Homo sapiens: one gene and its partner. The protein of the gene in region 2 purifies or fractionates together with the protein of the main gene of each other region. This does not show direct contact. Each region holds a gene or a part of one and is shown on either strand. Other genes may lie near its edges.

What was found.
Region 1: the proteins of BCAR3 (region 2) and DEFA5 purify together in Homo sapiens (affinity purification with mass spectrometry; 2 studies listed by BioGRID and IntAct, with this or other methods). This does not show direct contact.

What each region holds. Positions count from the first base shown.
Region 1 is NC_000008.11:7,054,804-7,061,964, reverse strand, and holds DEFA5 (defensin alpha 5 preproprotein), read left to right. Parts: upstream 1-5,225; 5' UTR 5,226-5,267; coding exon 5,268-5,439; intron 5,440-6,421; coding exon 6,422-6,534; 3' UTR 6,535-6,661; downstream 6,662-7,161. UniProt on the Homo sapiens protein: Host-defense peptide that maintains sterility in the urogenital system.
Region 2 is NC_000001.11:93,560,025-93,567,067, reverse strand, and holds the end of BCAR3 (breast cancer anti-estrogen resistance protein 3), read left to right. Parts: intron 1-4,648; coding exon 4,649-4,827; 3' UTR 4,828-5,327; downstream 5,328-7,043. UniProt on the Homo sapiens protein: Acts as an adapter protein downstream of several growth factor receptors to promote cell proliferation, migration, and redistribution of actin fibers.

The DNA of each region.
Region 1 (7,161 bases), on a different chromosome or scaffold from region 2:
ATAAACACACATCTAAGCATTGTTTGTCCCCTGGAATATCCTGGAATACAAAACCTCTATTATAAAACCAGATTCTGTTGCTATCTGAAGTATTTTCTTTCAGGCCAATTCCCTTGCCCTTTAGTTTTTAGCACAGTTAAATTAATTTTTATGTTAAATAATTAAATCATCGCCCAGGGAGTACATGCCTTCTAAGAGTGAATGTCCATATTATGTATGGAAATTAAGAGTGAATGTCCATATTATGGATGGAAATCCTGTTTTTGTCCCAGCGCTGAGTATAGGAGAGGCAAGATTGGACTCAGAATAAAGGACAAGAAAAATAGTTTTTCAGACTTTATTTTAAATGACAGCACGTTTGAAGTCAAGGGGACAATAGATAATGGGCACTTTGCTACAGTTAAAGAAAAAAGGGAACAGGAAAGGCATTTTATTCTAAATGATTATTTACAAACGCATTAAGAAACTAAAATTATTTTCCATAATGTCAGTGCCGTTTTCTTTTTCTTTCTTTCTTTTTTTTTGGGGGGGGTGGGGGTATGGAGTCTCGCTTTGTTGCCCAGGCTGGAGTGCACTGGCACAATCTCAGCTCCCTGCAACCTCTGCTGTCCACGTTCAAGAGATTCTCGTGTCTCAGCCTCCAGAGTAGCTGGGACTATAGGCACCCGCTGCCACATCCAGATAATTTTTGTATTTTTAGTAGAGATGGAGTTTCACCATGTTGGCAAGGCTGGTCTCGACCTCCTAACTTCAAATGATCTGCCCGCCTTGGCCTCCCAAAGTGCTGGGATTACATGCATGAGCCATTGCGCCCAGCCCAGTGGAGTTCTCTAGAAATACTTCTGCCAGAGATAATGAGAAACTTGACTGGCAACAGAGTTGTGTCTAAGGCTGAGCAATGGGCTGCCGGTGAGGGCCTGGTCCTGGGAAGATGGGCCACCGGGCATCTTCTGGCTTGGCCAGTGCTCAGCTCTGCCTCTCACACCACAGGGCCTGGACAGTGGTTTTTAAACCACCCATTTATCTTTCCAGATTTTCTGCTCACCCAATTAATTTTGGGGTCAGAGAAGGATGAAGAGAGACTGAAGATATCAATTTCTCCAAATAATAAGGACTCTGGGTGATCAAACACATGAGAGAATTCATGGAGAAAGGTTAGAACTGGAACAAAAATGTCCCAAATTGTTTCTTCAGTCATTGCTAGAGATTCAGAGAGACAATGCCAGAGAGACGGAGGCTAGGAAACAATTGTGGAACGCTATCTACAAACTTAGCAATGTCCAGTGAGAAATAGAGAAGCAGTACAAATACAGATGGTTTAAAACCTGGTGCTAAATGGCCACCAGGGCAAAACAAGGGCCATGAAACCTGGAATCACTGATGCAGGAAATTAGTCCCTCCCAGGCTCCCTGTTAATTCACGAATTCAAATAAATATTATAGATATTACAGATTTAATTCAGATCCTCTCATTTTCATAAGGCAGAATAAGTGGGAGATAAACTCTATCAGTTTCTCTGCAAAGAAAGAAAAAACTGAAACACATATCAAACACCCCAACCTCTCCACTGTATTCTAAAGGTCTGGCTTCTCTCCCACTCTCTCAAGGCAATAGCATGACTTGACACTTTCTAATTTTGTAGGAGTCACTAAGAATAAAGACAGGAGTTTGGACTGGCACAAAGGTTTAGAAGCCCACACAATCTCATTTATAATAGCACTCAAAAATAAAATTCTTAGAAGTAATTTTAACCAAAAAAGTGAAAGATCTGTACACTGAAAACTATAAATATTGATGAATAAAACTGAAGAAGACACAAATGAATGGAAAGATATCTTGAGTTCATGGATTGGAAGAATTAATATTATTAAAATGTCTACACTACCCAAAGTGATCTGTAGATCCCCATCAAAATTCCAATGCAATTTTTCACAGGAATTAAAAAAATACTAAAATTGGCATGAAATCAGAAATGACCCCGAATAGCCAAAGCAATCTTGAGCAAAAATAACAAAGATAGCGGCATCATGCTCTCTCATTTTAAAATGTATCATAAAGTTATTGGAAGCAAAACAGCATGGTCTGGTGTAAAAGCAGACACAATAACCAAAGGAAAGGAGTAGAAAGCCCAAAACTATACCCAGGGCTTTATGATTACTTGATCTTCAACAAAGATGCCAAGAACACACAATGGGGAAAGGACAGTCTTTTCACTAAAAGGTGTAAGGAAAACTAGATATCCACAAGCAGAAGAATGAAATTGGACACTTATCCCACACTATACACAAAACTCAACTCAAAATGGATTAAAGACTTACATAAAAGACCCGAAATTGTAAATCTACTAGAAGAAAACATGGAGGGAAATCTTTATGACATTTTTCTGGGCAATTATTTCTACAACAGGACTCCAAAAGCAAAGACAACAAAATCAAAAATAGACCAAGGAGGTTACATCAACTAAAAAACTTCTGCACAGAAAGGAAACAAAAAGATGATCCAGGGACTAGGAGAAAGTGTTTGCAAACCATATATCTGATAAGGGGCTAATATCCCAAAGATATAAGGAATTCAAACACTCAATAAGACGAAAACAAACATCTCAATTTAAAAAAGGGCAATAAACCTGGCCCACAGATATATGAAAAACACACTCGACATCACTAATTATCAGGGAAATGCAAATTAAAATCATAAAGAGGTAATCATCTGTTAGAATGGCTTTTAACAAGTAGACAAATAATACGTGTTGGTGAGGATATAAAAAAAAGGGGACCCTTGTAGGCCATTGGTGGAAATGTAAATTAGTGCAGCCATTTTGGAAAATAGTATGGCGGTTCCTCAAAGCACTGAACATAGAATTACCATATGACCCAGCAATCCCACTTCTGGGTATATCTCCCAAGAAATTGAAATCACTGTATCAAAGAAGAATCTGCACTCCCATGTCCATTTCAGCATTATTCAAAATAAGCAAGATATGGAATTAGCCTAAATGTTCATCAGTGGATGAATGAATAAAGAAAATATGGTATACATGCAAGATGGTATACCATATAGCCTTAAAAAAGAAGGAAATTGGCAGGGCGCGGTGGCTCACTCCTGTAATCCCAGCACTTTGGGTGGCCCAGGCGGGCGGATCACGAGGTCAGGAAATCGAGATCATCCTCGCTAACACAGTAAAACACCGTCTCTACTAAAAATACAAAAAAATTAGCCGAGCATGGTGGCGGGCGACTGTACTCCCAGCTACTCAGGAGGCTGAGGCAGGAGAAAGGCGTGAACCTGGGAGGCGGAGGTTGCAGTGAGCCGGGATCGCACCACTGCACTCCAGCCTGGGCGACAGCAAGACTCCGTCTCAAAAAAAAAAAAAAAAAAAAAAAAGAAGGAAATTCTTCATTCATGACAACATGGATGGAACCAAAGGACAATGTGCTAAACGAAATAAACCAGACACAGGAAGACAAATACTATATGATATCACTTACACATGGAATGTTAAAATGTCAGTTTTATGGAACTAGAGTACAAAGGTGGTCATCAGAAGCTGCAGGTGGGTGAGATAGGAAAAGAGAAGATGTTGAGCCAAGAGTACAAAGTTTCAGTTATGCTGGAGAGTCTTAGTGATCTATGGCACTGCACGGTGACCACAGTTAATAGTGATGTATTGTATCTTTCAAACTGCTAAAGGAATCAATTTGTAATTCTCCTTAAAAAATTAAGTTGGTGAGGTGATGGCTATCTTAATTAGCTTATGTGTTTCTCCCATGTGGATATCAATCCAAACGTCACATCATACCCTACAAATATACAGAAAATTATTTTTCAATGAATAAATAAATAAATTTGAAAAAAATTAAATGAGGAATTCAAATATAGAGACTCTCCAAGGGCCCACTGAGCCCCAAAGGATTTGGATCAAATATGGTGATATTATGGAAATATGTAGTAATATCTTAAAAATGTGTAAGATATAGTCTCTTTTTTTTTTTTTAAGAGAAAGGGGTCTCACTATGTTTTTAGGCTGGTATCGAACTCCTGGTCTCCAGTGATCCTCCCACCTCAGCCTCTCAAATAGCTAGAAATATAGGCATGTACCACCATGCTGGCTTAAGATGCATTCTTTGACACAGCAATTCTATTTCTATAAGTTTATCCATATAGGTAAGAGAACATATATACAAGATAATCACTGTAACTTTACTTATTACTGCAAAAGTTTAAAAATAACCAAATTGTAATAATTTTATAATATTTTATCAGTACAAAAAATAAGTGATGGCATATACAAACCCTGGGATAGTATAAGGCTATTAAAATTATAATAGCATTCCATGTATTTTGATATACAAAGTGCCAATGTTACAGGTGAAAAAAGCGAAGTGCAGAATACTATGTGTAACTGTTAATAGTGATGGTTTGCTGGGTCAGAACTGAAGGCCTGGGGGTAGAAATGAGAGCTCATGACTTCTACCTTTTGAATGTTGTTCCTTGTGCATGATTTACAATTTTCTAAAACTAAAAAAAAAATCTCAGAAAGGGGCTGTACGCACCTAAATTACTTTGATATTCCCCAAAGTGGAGAGAAGTACCCGCTACACATTTTATGTGATGCATTCAGATCACACCAACTCCTTGAACTAAATCCGAATTTTTATTTTAATCTGATAAACTTGGCCTACTATTTTACTGAACTCATTTCCCCTATAGCCTGATAAGGTCATTGACCTCTCCATACTGGCACCAGCGGGAGACTACTCACCTCGAGATCTCAAAAGCCTCCTACATGAGGTTAGTAATATCCCTGAATCCTGCAATGAATTAACTCTCTACTCCACTGAGTCCCAGGTCTGCCCCCAGAGAGTCATCCAGAGAGTACCAGGGACCATCTTCAGAAAACAAGAGGCATTTGATCCCCAAACTTCTTGAATGAAAGCGCTGTTGTTTTTCTTTTTTGAATATATAAAAGTAAATACTCAAGCAGATGGGAAACAGAACAGGATAGTAATACCCTTATCATCATTAACACCTTGGATCAAGAAGAGGCATTAAGCATACAGACTCACGCTTTGATGAAAGCTGGGAGAAAGAGGAGCATCAAAGGGATCTTGAGAACAAAGGCAGTCCTTCCCCTCCCAATCACATGCCCACCTCCTCTCACTGCAGCTTCTGTCTCAGGTCTTCTCCCAGCAGAGCTATAAATCCAGGCTGACTCCTCACTCCCCACATATCCACTCCTGCTCTCCCTCCTGCAGGTGACCCCAGCCATGAGGACCATCGCCATCCTTGCTGCCATTCTCCTGGTGGCCCTGCAGGCCCAGGCTGAGTCACTCCAGGAAAGAGCTGATGAGGCTACAACCCAGAAGCAGTCTGGGGAAGACAACCAGGACCTTGCTATCTCCTTTGCAGGAAATGGACTCTCTGCTCTTAGAACCTCAGGTAGGAGACATCAATCTTGCACATCTGCAAAATCTAGAAAAAAAGGATTGGAGAAAGGATCTGGAGTCAAGTGTGGAAAGGTCTACCTCACTTGAGTGACTTTACTTAATCTTCCTGGACCTTGATTTTCTCATCTATAAATTAATCAGTGAGAACCAAATAAATCTAAAAGATTTTCTTTTTTCTAAGACTTTCAGTTCCAAGATATTTCTGTGAAATTTGCTACTTTTAAGATAGAAAGAGCTACACTGACTAGTTCTTTGTAGATCTAAATGGGCAGACTTAGTTATATAGAGAGTGTTTTACTTTGTCCATTGGAAAAGCTTTTAGAACCTAGAGAGGAACCTATAGGTGTGTTTTGATGTAGGCTAATAGGCTTGATTAAATCTTTCTACAATACATCCTTAGATCAAAACATCATATTGTGTCTCATACATATACACAATTATTGTTTGTCAATTAAAACAAGTAAATATGTAAAATGTTAAAAAAAAAAAAAAAAAAAAAAAAAGGAGAGACAGAGAATGAAGAATTTGAATTTGGAAAGTCTTCAAAGACTCCTTGAGCACCAAAGTATTTGGTCCATGACATTAGCATGCACAATGCGGCATTTCAGAAACTGATTCAGGTGCTTTAGGGAGCCTTGTTAGGACCTGGAAATCACACATGGAGGTCAAGATTAGGCGTGTGGATGAAGCAGAATGAAGAGTAGGTAACCCTGAGGTTGAGAGGTATATTGTTGGACCAGGGAGCAGGTAATAAATACATCCTGGATAGACTCACATGGGGAAAAAAACTATGATCTTGCATGACTAACACATAGCTAGTAAGATTTCTTGTCACTTACGACAAAGACATGAATTTTCTCCATCCTAACATGACTGATACAGTGTCTCTTATTTAGACTATCTCAGTTAGTCTGGCTGTGCTTGTCCTTTTTCCCACCTCCCTCGCTGTGCCTGACCCTCTCTTCTTTCCACAGGTTCTCAGGCAAGAGCCACCTGCTATTGCCGAACCGGCCGTTGTGCTACCCGTGAGTCCCTCTCCGGGGTGTGTGAAATCAGTGGCCGCCTCTACAGACTCTGCTGTCGCTGAGCTTCCTAGATAGAAACCAAAGCAGTGCAAGATTCAGTTCAAGGTCCTGAAAAAAGAAAAACATTTTACTCTGTGTACCTTGTGTCTTTCTAAATTTCTCTCTCCAAAATAAAGTTCAAGCATTAAACTTAGTGTGTTTGACCTTTTTAATTTTCTTTTCTTTTTCCTTTTTTTTCTTTTGCTTTGTTATATGGTGGTTTGTATGGTTCCTTTGTATTGAGAATTCTGATCTACATTAAGTTAACTGGTCTTTGCATTCCAATGATGCACAATTTGAGCATCATAGAGCAATAACAAAATAACAAAAATGAATATAATTGGGTTTTTTATTGTTGTTGTTTGAGACAGTGTCTAACTTAGCCACCCAAGCTGGAGTACAGCGGTGCAATCTCGGCTCACTGCAGCCTTGACCTCCTGTGCTCAAATGATCCTCCCACCTCAGCCTCTTGAGTAGCTGGGACTACAGGCATGTGCCACCACACCCTACTAATGGTTTGTATTTTTTTGTAGAGACAGGGTTTCACCATATTGCCCAGGTTGGTCTCGAACCCCTGAGCTTAAGTGATCTGCTCTCCTCAGCCCCCCAAAGTGCTAGGATTACATGCTTGAGCCACCATTCCTGACAGG
Region 2 (7,043 bases):
GTATAGAATAAACAGAGAGAAGGGGTCAAGAAAGAACTGGGGCCGGGCGTGGTGGTTCAAGCCTGTAATCCCAGCACTCTGGGAGGCTGAGGCAGGTAGATCACTTGAAGTCAGGAGTTCAAGACCAGCTTGGCCAACATGATGAAACCCTGTCTCTAATAGAAATACAAAAATTAGCTGGGCGTGATGGTGTGTGCCTGTGATCCCAGCTACTCAGGAGGCTGAGGCAGGAGAATCACTTGAACCCGGGAGGCGGAGGTTGCAGTGAGCCGAGATCGCACCACTGCACTCCAGCCTGGGCGCTGGGCAACAGAACAAGAATTGGCCAACTTGCCTACCACTTATTAATAGTACCTCTAATAGGTGAGATTAGAAAAGGTGATGTGCCAAGATGAGGAGGTGGAGTTTTATCCAGACCTCATTTATCTGCATTCCTGTTCCTTCCCAGTCACACTGGGAAGTGAGCTCCCCTGCTCTTAGCATCAGACACATCCTGGAAAGTGTGGGGCAGTGTTGCGTAAACGGATTTTTCTTACAAGTGCTATGGTGACAGAAAGCAGCCTCCTCAGTCAGCACGGCCGGCATTTATCACACATGTGGCATGCGCGCGGCACCGTGCTAACTGGATGTCCTGAGGAATTTAAGCAGGTACGATAAATGCAGTGTATACTGTGGGAGCACTTAGGGGAAGGGACTGATTTGGTCAGAGATGTTAGGAAAGAGGAAGCACCTGGTGACAGCTTCCCAGAAAACACTGCATTGATTGTTAAAGGACAAAAGCAGTTACCAGCAAGCAGGGCTGGGAATTCCACTCAGATGGCACAACCCAAGCAAAGGCGCTGAGAGACCTTGGGGAAAACTGGGATCCACAAGTACTTGGGTTTAGATTTGTGCAAAGTATGACCTAAGGAATGGCCAACTAGGCTACAGAGGGAGGTGCAGCTGGGAAGCCCTTCCACATAAGACCGTGGCTGAAGAAGAGCCAGTGAAGGGTTTAATCATGGGAGGGTGTCACATGGTCAGATTTCTGTTTTAAAGTAAATTACTCTGGTGTCTGTGTGGAGGAAGGCTGGAAGGCTGAAGGTTTGCTGGCAGAAAGACCATTCAGGAAGGAGGGCTTTGCCAAGGCAGTCATCAAGGATGACTATTTTCCATTACTATATAATTTTTTAAATTCTTCAAGGGCTCACAGTTTGATTCACAAAGTTAAGAACTATGTGGGGGCAGGAGACTCCATTTATTTAATTCTAAAAGGGAGCTGCCTCAGAACCAGATGTGGGACTTAGTCGTTTGCACCATCTGCTGTGGGTATAAGCACCGCATACCTGTTTCATTTTCTTCCTCAAAAAGTTCTCCAGGATTGGCTGTATGTTACTCAAACAATAAAAGCACACAAGTCAACAAGTATCAGAGTGCCTACTTAGACAAAGCCAATGAATACATTACCATGGATGTTGCATAAGCCAATACATCAGGGTGGGTTTTGAGAAAAGTGTGCCATAAGCTGCTCTACAGCTTTAAATCACTTTAAAGGTCACTGATGGAATTTTTCAGTCGATCCTAATATAGATTTCACAGCAAGTACCCATTGCTGTAAGTGACAGTGAACCCAGGAAAGGCAGAGATCTGCTCACCAGCATAGACCAGACCACGTGAATGGGAAGGGGCTCAAAGCATGTATGAATAGGAGTCACCATCTGGGGGCCGGGCGCAGTGGCTCATGCCTGTATTCCCAGCACTTTCGGAGGCTGAGGTAGGCAGATCACCTGAGGTCAGGACTTAGAGGCCAGCCTGGACAACATGGCAAAACCCCGTCTCTGTTAAAAATACAAAAATTAGCCGGGGAATTTTGAGAGGGAATACTTGAGAGGCTGAGGCAGGAGTATCAAGCGATTCTCCTTGATTCTTAATTTCATTGAGCCGAGATTGTGCCACTGCACTCCAGCCTGGTCTCAAAAAAAAAAAAAGTCACCATCTGGCCTTTGGTTGGTTATCCACCAAGGATATTCTGGCATCATCAGGAAGAAAATATTCCTGTTGTCCTTTCTACAACCAAGATCCTGTGATCTAGATGGCAGGTATATTTAATGGCAGAACAAACTATCCCAGCAATAATAAAGGATGAGAACCACATGACTCTTTGGCTAGAGGCTTCTCTCTCTTTAAAAGAGTTGCCTGAACATCTTTGGCCTTAAGCAGACCACATCCTCTCTTAGATGGAATAGAGTTAAGAAATAGGCCCACACATATGGCTGACAGTTGATTTTCAACAAAGGTGCCAAAATAATTCACTGGATAAAGTATAATCCTGCAAATGGTATCTGCTATTGGATATCCATATGCAAAAAAGTGAATCTCGATCCTTACCTCATACCATACACAATAATCCAAAATGGATCATAGACCCAAAATGTAAGAGCTAAAGTATAACCTTCTGTAAGAAAACATAGGAGAAATTCTTTGTGCCCTTAAGCTAAGTAAAGACTTCTTGGCCAGGCACGGTGGCTCACGCCTGTAATCCCAGCATTTTGGGAGGCTGAGGCAGGCGGATCACCTGAGGTCGGGAGTTCAAGACCAGCCTGACCAACGTGGAGAAACCCCGTCTCTACTAAAAATACAAAATTAGCCGGGCGTGGTGGCGCATGCCTGTAATCTCAGCTACTCGGGAGGCTGAGGCAGGAGAATTGCTTGAACCCAGGAGGCAGAGGTTGCACCATTGCACTTCAGCCTGGGCAACAAAAGCAAAACTCCATCTCAAAAAAAAAAAAAAAAAAAAAGAAAGAAAGAAATTCTTAGGACACAAAAAGCATGAACCACAGCAGAAAACATTGAGTACACATATATCTGATAAAGGACTTACATCTAGGCTATACAAAGAACTCTTACAACTCAGTGAGAAGATAAAATTTAAATAGACAAAAATTTGAATAGACACTACATCAGAGAAGGCATACAAATGACAACTACATGAAAAGATGTTCAAAGCATTCATCATTAGGGAAATGTAAATTTAAACCAACCACAATGAGATACCACCACACTATCTAGAATGGCTACAACTAAAAAGAATGATAGGCCAGGCACGGTGGCTAATGTCTGTAATCCCAGCACTTTGGGAGGTCGAGGCGGGTGGATCACCTGAGGTCAAAAGTTCGAGACCAGCCTGGCCAACATGGCAAAACCCCGTCTCTACTGAAAATACAAAAAATTAGCCAGGCGTGGTAGCACACACCTGTAGTCCCAGCTACTTGGGAGGCTGAGGCAGGAGAATTGCTTGAACCCGAGAGGTAGAGGTTGTGGTGAGCCAGGATCGTGCCACTGCACTCCAGCCTGGGCAACACAGCGAGACTCCTTCTCAAAAAAATAAAAATAAAAAATGATAAAACTAAGGGTTGGCAGCATGTGGAAAAACTGGAGTCTTCATATGTTACTGCTGTGAATATAAAATGATACAGCCATTTTGGAATAGAGTTTAATAGTTTCTTTAAAAGTAAACATATACTGATTGTATGACCCAATAATTCCTTTCCTAGAGAAATGAAAACACATGTCCACACAAGATTTGTACACAAGTGTTCACAACCACTTACTCATAGCAGCCAGAAGCAATCCAAATGTCATCAATTGGTGAATGGATAAACAAAAACAATGGCATGTCCATAAAACTGAATATTGATCAGTAAGAATGATTAGCATGCAACATATGGAATAATCTCAAAAACATCATGCTAAGTGAAAGAAGTCACACATTAAAAAGTTCATAGTGGATGATTCCATTTATCCCATATTTCTAGAAAAGGCAAAACAGTAGCAACAGAAAGCAGATCAGTGGTTGACTGAGGTCTGCAGTAGGAACAGGAATTGACTGCAAAGAGGTACTAAGGTGATGGAAGTGTTCTAAGACTGGTGGTAATGGTTTATGTAAAAACTTACCATCATAAATCAAACTCCACAGCCAAAAACAGGTGAATCATATGACATGTAAACTATACATCAGTAAAGTTGGTAAAAACAAGTAACGAACTCCTAGGTACAATGAACCCTCCTTCCCACAGCACTACTTCCCACAGTGGTTTGTACAAACCAATTTCACTCTATTGTTTTTTAATGAGTTTACCTGTTATTTCTTCTCTGAAGGTGCTTAGGTTCTGCAGGGTGGGGCTCTGCTCTCCCTTATATAGAACAGATCCTATATTTTTCTTTGGGGACATTTTTTAAAGTTCTGAGAGAGAGAAGATGTTCATTTTGATGCTACTTTAAGCAAGCTTTCAGTCTATTTTTTTTTTTTTTTTTTTTTTTGAGATGGAGTCTCGCTTGTCACCCAGGCTGCAGTGCAGTGGCGCAGTCTCGCTCACTGCAAGCTCCACCTCCCGGGTTCACGCCATTCTCCTGCCTCAGCCTCCCGAGTAGCTGGGACTACAGGCGCTCGCCACCACGCCTGGCTAATTTTTTGTATTTTTTTAGTAGAGACGGGATTTCACTGTGTTAGCCAGGATGGTCTCGATCTCCTGATCTTGTGATCCACCCACCTCGGCCTCCCAAAGTGCTGGGATTACAGGCGTGAGCCACCGCGCCTGGTGCTTTCAGTCTATTTTTAACACATCTTAGGCAGAACTGAAGTAACTTTTTGTTTATTTTGTTTCATTAGGTTTTCAACCAGATGAAGAAATGAATGAAATCTGCAAGACTGAATTTCAAATGCGATTGCTATGGGGCAGCAAAGGTGCACAAGTCAATCAGACAGAGAGATATGAGAAATTCAACCAGATTTTAACTGCCCTCTCGCGTAAATTGGAACCTCCTCCTGTAAAGCAGGCAGAGCTTTGATAACTCTCCAGAGAACCTTTAGAATATCTTTTCAAGTTTCCCCAGCTTCATCTTTGGGAAAGCTTACTGTTTTTGATAAAGTAATAATGTGCAAATCTGACAATATACAAGCTTTTAGTATCCACAGGATATTAAACGTGTAAATTGCACAGAGCACACTTATTTATGAATTGTCTAAAGTTACTACTGATTTTAAAATGAATAATTTATTATTAAGGTAACTACTGCTAATGTTGATCAGCAAATTTAAGAGAAGACCTAGCTATGTTGGCTGGTTGCTTTCTATTATCATGGTATTTGACCATTTTAGTTTTAATTCCATGTCAGATAAGTGTAAATAGAAGAGTTTAAAAGCATGAAACATTTCAGAAGGTATCAGTTATATGATATTCTTTAAACAAATATGAAAAATGTAAATACTCATGAATGAAAATACATCTTTTTGTGAAACAGTTGTATCCAGTCTCTTTCATATTAAACAACTCATCTTGGTACAATAACTCTACCTCTTAGCTACCTCAAGCATGCTCTTCCCTAGGTACCGTATCCTGATAGTAAACCAAAATGAATGAAAGTGGTATGAAAAATTTAATGTTCCTGGATTAAAAGGCAGAGTGATTGATAGTGACACAAGGTAGAAACAGCTCGAGAGGACCTGGGTTCAAACTCAAGCTATGGTACTTGCTACCAGCTGGAGTTAGGCCAAGTTTACCTCATTGAATTCCATGTGCAGCATGGACACCCAGTATGATGAACATAACATCATCTCTTCACATATTTCAGAGTAATCAACTGTTTTACCTTTTCCTCTAGCTGATAAGTACAACAATGAGTTTCCTAGGTTGGCTTTCTAGGTTTCTCATTTTGCAAAGGGGATACTTTCTAGTTTCTTTCTAGTTTAGCAATATCCCTCTCAACTTTCCCTATTGTACAAAATTTGGAATATAAGACTTTAACGTATTCTGTTACTCTGCCATCAACTGTCAAACTTCTTTTAATAATCTGTTTTTCCTTCTTCTATTTTAAATAATATTAGGACCATACCAACTTTTATATTCATCTTAAACCGGCTGTGAAAATTTCTTCATGATGTTAAATAGCCTTTAAAAAATATGATTTATTGGTTACAGAAGTTACACTGTAACTTAACTATCACCCTATGATGGTTTTTAAAAATGTGCCACATTTTTTAAAAGGTGCCACGTTGTTATTTTTTGTTGAAAAAAACCAAAGCACATTTCTACTTCTGGCAATATGGTGGTTCAGATGTTCTTAGCCCTCTCACCATAACTAACTAAATCCTGAATACATTTTAATAAACATACCTTTTAGTGTATGATCAACCTTGATAGAAATCCCCAAGGAACAAACTTCTCTCCCCGCCGCACCTGAAAAAGGTACAGCACATTTGAATCAACTCCTCATGAGAACTTAAGAGCCGGGGCAGACCTAGAGGCAAAGAGTAACGTCAGCTCAGTGAATGAGAGTCTGTCTTGGGGGAACTTAAAATGCCTCCATTAAGCAGGAATCCTTAAAGGGTCCCTGTTAATGGAATAGAAAACATTCATCTGCCAGCAAAGGAAGGTTGCCAGGAAACATGACTGTCTTCACATACAGCTCCAGGAAGAAAACAATTATAATGACTATAGTGTTCAGTGAGGATTGGCAACCACACACCTGTCCTCATACAGGTCTGGAGTAAAAATTACAAAATCCAAAACCAAGAAATTGATTTACAGTGGTCCCAGGTTGGTGGTGTCTACCAGATATAAAAGCTTATTATTAAGCTATAGTAATTAAGGTTTCATCAGAAATTTAACATGACAGAGTGAAACTGTTGATAAATGGGGGAAATAATGACTTTAATTCTTGAACAATTGGTTAAGCAAATGAAAGGGGGAAAATGGCCTCTTACCTCTTATCATATACAGAAATAAAATCTGGATGAGTTAAGAACCTACATGTGAAAGGCAAAATCATAATACTTTTAGAAGAAAGTATCTTTTACTTTGAATCAAATAAGAATTTCTTAGAAAAAGCATTAATTATAAAATAATGATTAATCTGCATTAAAATGAATAAATTCCATTCAAAAGACATCATAGAGAACCTGAAAAATCAGAGATATTGACAACACATAAAATGGACAACAGAATACTATGGTTGGTAGGCAGCCTCCAAGATGGTCCCCAATGTTCTCTGCCTCCTGGTGCTCA